Linked DNA regions of Homo sapiens. The protein of the gene in region 2 purifies or fractionates together with the protein of the main gene of each other region. This does not show direct contact. Each region holds a gene or a part of one and is shown on either strand. Other genes may lie near its edges.

Region 1 (2,431 bases), on a different chromosome or scaffold from region 2:
AGAAGGTTATAACGATGGAGAGGTAGATGACGAGGAAGATGAAGAAGAGCTTGGTGGTATGGCAGCCTTTTTACTCTCAGCTGGTAGCAGCCTGGCCCTTTCACTTTGGCCTTAGATTGCTTAGACTCAGAGGCCCCTGGCAGTGGGCAGGACACTCCTGTCAGAGGCCTCAGATTCCCCTTCCAGCTGTGCAGATGTCTTGCCTCGGTTTCCAAGGATGGCACAGCTTGCTAGTCATGGGTCCCCTGACTTCTCACTGGGTGGGTTGAGTTAAAGAGGTGGGATTAATAACTAATCTAAATGCCGCTTTCTTACTTTTCCAGAAGAAGAAAGGGGTCAGAAGCGAAAACGAGAACCTGAAGATGAGGGAGAAGATGATGACTAAGTGGAATAACCTATTTTGAAAAATTCCTATTGTGATTTGACTGTTTTTACCCATATCCCCTCTCCCCCCCCCCTCCAATCCTGCCCCCTGAAACTTATTTTTTTCTGATTGTAACGTTGCTGTGGGAACGAGAGGGGAAGAGTGTACTGGGGGTTGCGGGGGGAGGGATGGCGGGTGGGGGTGGAATAAAATACTATTTTTACTGCCACTCTTTATTTTTTTCCCCTACTTTTTCTTTGTGTCCGGTTTTTGTCCCTGTAAATGCGATAGCTAAGTACACACTAAGTGAGCATTTGTTCCTGACTCTCAAAGAGGATGGTTTGGAGTTCTCTTACGTTTCCTGGTATTTCCCAAGTCTCTTGGGTTGGTTGGAAGGCTGTGGCTGGTCTCAGTTTGGTTACTCAATGCCCAGGAGGGGCTGAGCACCAGCCATATCTTTTGCTTTGGTTCACATGATGATACCTGCTTTTCTCAGGCCTGCTAGAGGCATCCAACGCCCTGGTTTGTAAATAGCAACCTAAAGGCGTATTTTGGCACTGGTCTGGGGACATTCCCCATCTCTCATCCCTTTTCCCCCTTCACAGATGGTGGTGGGCTTCGCTCTACAAAGAGGACTCTGATGTTACTCTTGAGCTTATGAGCCAGAGAGCTGAAAACCGCAGGCTTGTTGTGTTAAGTTACAAGGAAAATGGATTTGGTAATTAAAATTAGAAGAAACACACCTTCAAACTTCAACTTCTTTAAAAGAAAAAAAAAACTGTCCTATCTTGTTCTGTAAAATATTAGAACGCTTTGTTTTACAAAAAATGATGAGAGAATTCTTCCACATGTACTTCTGTGCTTAGAACATTTTTACGGACCTAAGCGCTGGAGACGTTGCTGCATGTCGGCTGGGTTTTTTTTTTCATACACCCGAGCACGGAAAAACTAACGCAAAATTGTATTTTCTTACCTAGTGGAAATCTGAAATGACTGCAAATTCCTAGTGAATGTACAGGTTTGCTTTCGTGTCCCTCTTCTGGTTGCTTTAGAAGTGACGTGTAATTTCTGAACCCATGTTTCATCTGTATAAAAGAACATCTGCACCAGTTTTTCTCCTGCCCCTCAGAAGAGCCAAACTTTGAGTTTTATGTCTGTTTGTCATTGATAAATTTCAATAAATCTTTTTATACAATTTTTTTGGGGATGGCTTCTTTGAGTCCAACAGGCCATTGATCTTTTCAAGATGCATTCCAGATGAACTGCTAGGTGAGGGGGAAGCTTCATTTTTGTTACCTGATAGAATAGCTTTTCTTATGAGATATATATAATGTGATACTATGTTTGGATATTTTTGGTCTTAAAGCAAGACTCAGTGGTGTATCTTCATTAAAAGCTTCCTTTAAAAAAGTTACAGAGTTACTAAAAAAACAAGTACCCAAACAATCAAGTTGGGCCAACCTTGGAACCTTGTTTTGAATATCTTTCATTGTTTTGTTTGTCGTATTGTAAAAAGAATGTATGGTTGAAAACTCAGGAATGTTTATAAAACAAATTATTTCACAAACCCAGAGGTTTACATATGGTGTTTTATTTTGTTACTTTACTTAACAGTATTATAATCATTTCCCTGTTTCTTTAATTTTCAAAAGCATGTATCTTAAATGGCTACATAGTAGTCCATCAACTATATTCTGATTTACTTAATTCTAACCAAATGGTTAGATGTTTTCATTATGTCCAGCTTACCCCTGTAGTGGATATTGTTATATTACTACTTATTTATACTTTTTGTGGAGTTCTTAGTACAAACTCTTAGAAGTAGTAGAGTCATTGGACCAAAAGCTAAAAACATTTATGAGGCTCATGTACAAGGTTCCATGTTTTCCAGAAGAGTTCAGCCAGTTTACTGTGGTTGTTTATACACGTACACATATACTCATTCTTATGTATTCATTCTATACAGCCTTGAACCCACAACAAGCCCTAGTTCCTTACAATGTCTTATAGTTGTTGTGTGATTCCAGCAGTGTAAAGTGTTTCCAGAAGAGCCCGTGACCCACCTCA
Region 2 (4,007 bases):
ACCAGGGAGGCAAAGGTTGCAGTGAGCCGAGATTGCACCACTGCACTCCAGCCTGGGTGACAAGGGCGAAACTCTGCCTCAAAAAAAAAAAAAGAAAGAAAAGAAAGAAAGAAAAATAAATACTCCAAGAACCAAAGGCTCTCTGAAAAACTAAATGCATGACAGCAGAAACAAAACCCTCAACACAGTGTTGGAGACAAAGTTGAAGAAATTTCCCAGAAAGTAGAAGAAAAATGAACCAGTTTAAGAGCACCAATAACAGGAGTTTCAGAAAATGAGAACAGGGAAAGTGGAGGGAGGAAATCATTAGATAAGAAAGCAATCCCTGACCTCATGGAAACCAGTAACTGGACTGGAAGGGCCACCCTGGGCCTGTACCCAGCACATGAAAAGACGAGGGACCCTTGCCAACACACGCACAGCATTGGAGAATTTCAAAACCGCGGGACAAACGTACTAGGATGGAGGAATCCGTGGTGCAAAGCCTTCAGAATTAGCAGGAAAATTAATTCCAACCTAGAATTCTATATCTAGCCACAGTCTAAGCCAGGCAGGAGGTAGAACAGTCCAAGGTGCCAGGTGACCCCTTTCCCTCCAGGCACATCACTTCTACCAAGAGGAATAAGTAAACGAGAAAGACGTAGGACCCGGGCAGCAGGGCTCCACCCAGGAACCAGATGAGGCTGCAGGAGCGAGATCTCCAGGCCGTGGGAGTCGCAGGCTCCTGGTGCCCGACTGCCTCCAGAGACAACAGTCTGCGGAGAGTCTGCGGCAACACATGGTCAACTGCGGCAAGGAACACAGCCGCTTACTGTGGGAAGAGCGATCACAGCGTGCTCTGAGGCCAGGGGCTGCACCCGACTCGGCCCCCTAACAAACCCAGGGTCAGATGCCAGCGGAGCACGGCAGGCAGGGGACGGGCACGTGGGAGGGGATGGAAAGAGCTGGAACCTCTACTTCCACGTGGGAAGTTGTCAGATGGTGCCTAAAGTGGGTAAATCTGCAGCGACACCGGCAGCTTATTTTTGGATATGGGGACCAATTCCCAACGGGGGTTAGGAGGGACCTCAAACTTCTGTTTCTCAAGATTTAGGAACGATATAGCGCTTTAGACCGTGTGCACACAGACGTGTGATAAACATAGAAACAAGAACCTAAGTAACAAAGAGGCTGGGCCCACCGCTGCGCCCCCTGCAGCCTGGCCCAAAGACAAAAGGATAGCTTTTGTGGGGGTTTTACCTGGGTTCCCCCCAAGCCCTCCAGAGATGCGGGGTACACCCACCCTCCCCGCCGCCACACCAAGGGCAGCCAAAGGAACCCTACCCAAACCACCCCAGAGCCGGCTACCGTCCACATCTCCTCCCCGTAGGACCCCAGTTCCCCCCGAGGTCCCCTCTGGGCATTGTGGGGGCGGTGGATCCTCTAGCCCGAGCTGGCAGCCCCCACTGACAGGGCCAAGCTGGGTGGCCCCAGAGACAGCGTGGTGATCCGGCTCCTGGGCAGCCCGGCCCTGGGAAGCTGCCTTCCTGCACCTGTCTTCCCATGCTGCCCGGCGCCAGTGCCCACACTCCCACACGTCCAAGCACCCGCCTTCCCACGCTGCCCAGCCCGACTTCCCGCCTTCTCATGCCGCCTAGCTCAAGTGCCTACCCTCCCGTACCGTCCAAGCACCCACCTTCCTGCGCCACCCGGGCCTGAGGGCCCACCCTCCTGTGCCACCCGGGCCCGAGTGCTCGCCAGCACCCACCTTCCCGTCCTCATGGTAGATGAAGATGTTACGGGTGCTGTTGTCCTTCAGGTAGGTGACCTGCAGGCCGTGGGGGTGGCCGATCTTGGCCGGCTGGAAGGTGGCGTTCAGGTGCTCGATCTTCATCACGGCCTTGGGCTCCTTGGCCTGAGAAGGGGTGGGGTCTAAGCACCTCACAGGGGCCGTCGTCCAAGCTCAAGGGAGCAGGAAGGGCAGACCCTGTGGGTGCTGGCGGCGCACCTGCTGTGCTGTGTGGCTTTGGGCAAGTTACTTAAGCGCTCTGAGCCTTGGCCTCCCGGTCTGTAAGCAGAAGGTAACAGCACCTCCCTCCCAGGAGTGATGGGGACCTCAACGACACTGTGCAGGTGGCACTTGACATCAGACACTGCACCTCCCTCCCCGGGGGCAGCCCCGGGCCCCACACGGCACGGCAGCTCCCACAGGGGCAGGCCCCAGCCACCAGCCCACCTCCAGCCAGTGCCCGCCACGGCTCAGGGCGGGTGCTTCTGACCATCAGCCCATGGGTCTGGGGCCACCTTGTGAAGACCCCACTGTTCTTGCCAATGTGTTTGTCCTGTCCCAGTCCAGTCTCCCCAGGGTACCTCCAGGAAAACTAGGGGCTTTCTGGGGTCCTGGCTGGCTCCAGAGGGGCCCAGTGACTAGGTTCTCCCTCTCCCACGGCTGGGCCTGAGTTCAGGGGGCCCCGCCCGGCCGCCCAGGCTCCTGGAAAGCCTCAGCTGCCCCACCCTGGGGGACGCTGGGTCCGGCACACAGAGGCTCAGCCCAACACAGGCCGGTTCTCCTGGAGCGTCCCCATCGGGGGGGGCAGCAGGGAGGGCAGCTGCGGATGGACGCGGCCACCACAGGCCCCAGTGTGGGAGGCCGGGATGCCGCCCTGGGACAGGCCCCCACCCCACCCCCGTCTGTGACTCACATCATTTCTGTTGAAATACTTCAGAGCACCCTCTCGTTCTGTCAGCACAAACTTCCGGCTCAAAAACTGCCCGTTGTCCCGGCCACGCTTCCAGAGAAAACCCTCACGGTACCCTGTGGGGGAAAGGGGACACGAGTCGGTGACAGTGGATGGGGGGGAGGAAACAAAAGGAGTGACGATGGACAGGACAGAGGGGACATGGGGAGAAGACACGGGGGACACGGACGGGGGACACGGACAGGGGGAGACGGACGGGGAGAGGGGACATGGAGGAGACAGGGAGATAGGAAGATGGGCAGGGAAAGGGAAAGGGAAAGGAGAAAGGAGAAAGGAGAAAGGAGAAAGGAGAAAGGGAGAAAGAGAAAGGAGAAAGGAGAAAGGGAGAAAGGGAGAAAGGGAAAGGAGAAAGGAGAAAGGGAAAGGAGAAAGGAGAAGGGAGAAGGGAGAAGGGAGAAGGGAGAAGGGAGAAGGGAGAAGGGAGAAGGGAGAAGGGAGAAAGGAGAAAGGAGAAAGGAGAAAGGAGAAAGGAGAAAGGAGAAAGGAGAAAGGAGAAAGGAGAAAGGGAAAGGAGAAAGGGAAAGGAGAAAGGGAAAGGAGAAAGGAGAAAGGAGAAAGGGAAAGGAGAAAGGAGAAAGGAGAAAGGAGAAAGGAGAAAGGAGAAAGGGAAAGGAGAAAGGGAAAGGAGAAGGGAGAAGGGAGAAGGGAGAAAGGAGAAAGGAGAAAGGAGAAAGGAGAAAGGAGAAAGGAGAAAGGAGAAGGGAGAAGGGAGAAGGGAGAAGGGAGAAGGGAGAAGGGAGAAGGGAGAAGGGAGAAGGGAGAAAGGAGAAAGGAGAAAGGAGAAAGGAGAAAGGGAAAGGAGAAAGGGAGAAAGGAGAAAGGGAGAAAGGAGAAAGGGAGAAAGGAGAAAGGGAGAAAGGAGAAAGGGAAAGGAGAAAGGAGAAAGGAGAAAGGAGAAAGGGAAAGGAGAAAGGAGAAAGGGAAAGGAGAAAGGAGAAAGGAGAAAGGGAGAAAGGAGAAAGGGAAAGGAGAAAGGGAGAAAGGAGAAAGGGAGAAAGGAGAAAGGGAGAAAGGAGAAAGGGAGAAAGGAGAAAGGGAAAGGAGAAAGGAGAAAGGAGAAAGGGAAAGGAGAAAGGAGAAAGGAGAAAGGAGAAAGGAGAAAGGGAAAGGAGAAAGGGAGAAAGGAGAAAGGGAGAAAGGAGAAAGGGAGAAAGGAGAAAGGGAGAAAGGAGAAAGGGAAAGGAGAAAGGAGAAAGGAGAAAGGAGAAAGGGAAAGGAGAAAGGAGAAAGGGAAAGGAGAAAGGGAGAAAGAGAAAGGAGAAAGGAGAA

The links.
Region 1: the proteins of ADAP1 (region 2) and ANP32A purify together in Homo sapiens (co-purification; one study listed by BioGRID). This does not show direct contact.

Annotation. Positions count from the first base shown.
Region 1 is NC_000015.10:68,778,035-68,780,465, reverse strand, and holds the end of ANP32A (acidic leucine-rich nuclear phosphoprotein 32 family member A), read left to right. Parts: coding exon 1-56; intron 57-323; coding exon 324-385; 3' UTR 386-1,931; downstream 1,932-2,431. UniProt on the Homo sapiens protein: Multifunctional protein that is involved in the regulation of many processes including tumor suppression, apoptosis, cell cycle progression or transcription. Promotes apoptosis by favouring the activation of caspase-9/CASP9 and allowing apoptosome formation.
Region 2 is NC_000007.14:902,379-906,385, forward strand, and holds part of ADAP1 (arf-GAP with dual PH domain-containing protein 1), read right to left. Parts: intron 2,795-4,007; coding exon 2,682-2,794; intron 1,895-2,681; coding exon 1,748-1,894; intron 1-1,747. UniProt on the Homo sapiens protein: GTPase-activating protein for the ADP ribosylation factor family. Binds phosphatidylinositol 3,4,5-trisphosphate (PtdInsP3) and inositol 1,3,4,5-tetrakisphosphate (InsP4). Regulates the incorporation of CD63 and CD9 into multivesicular bodies.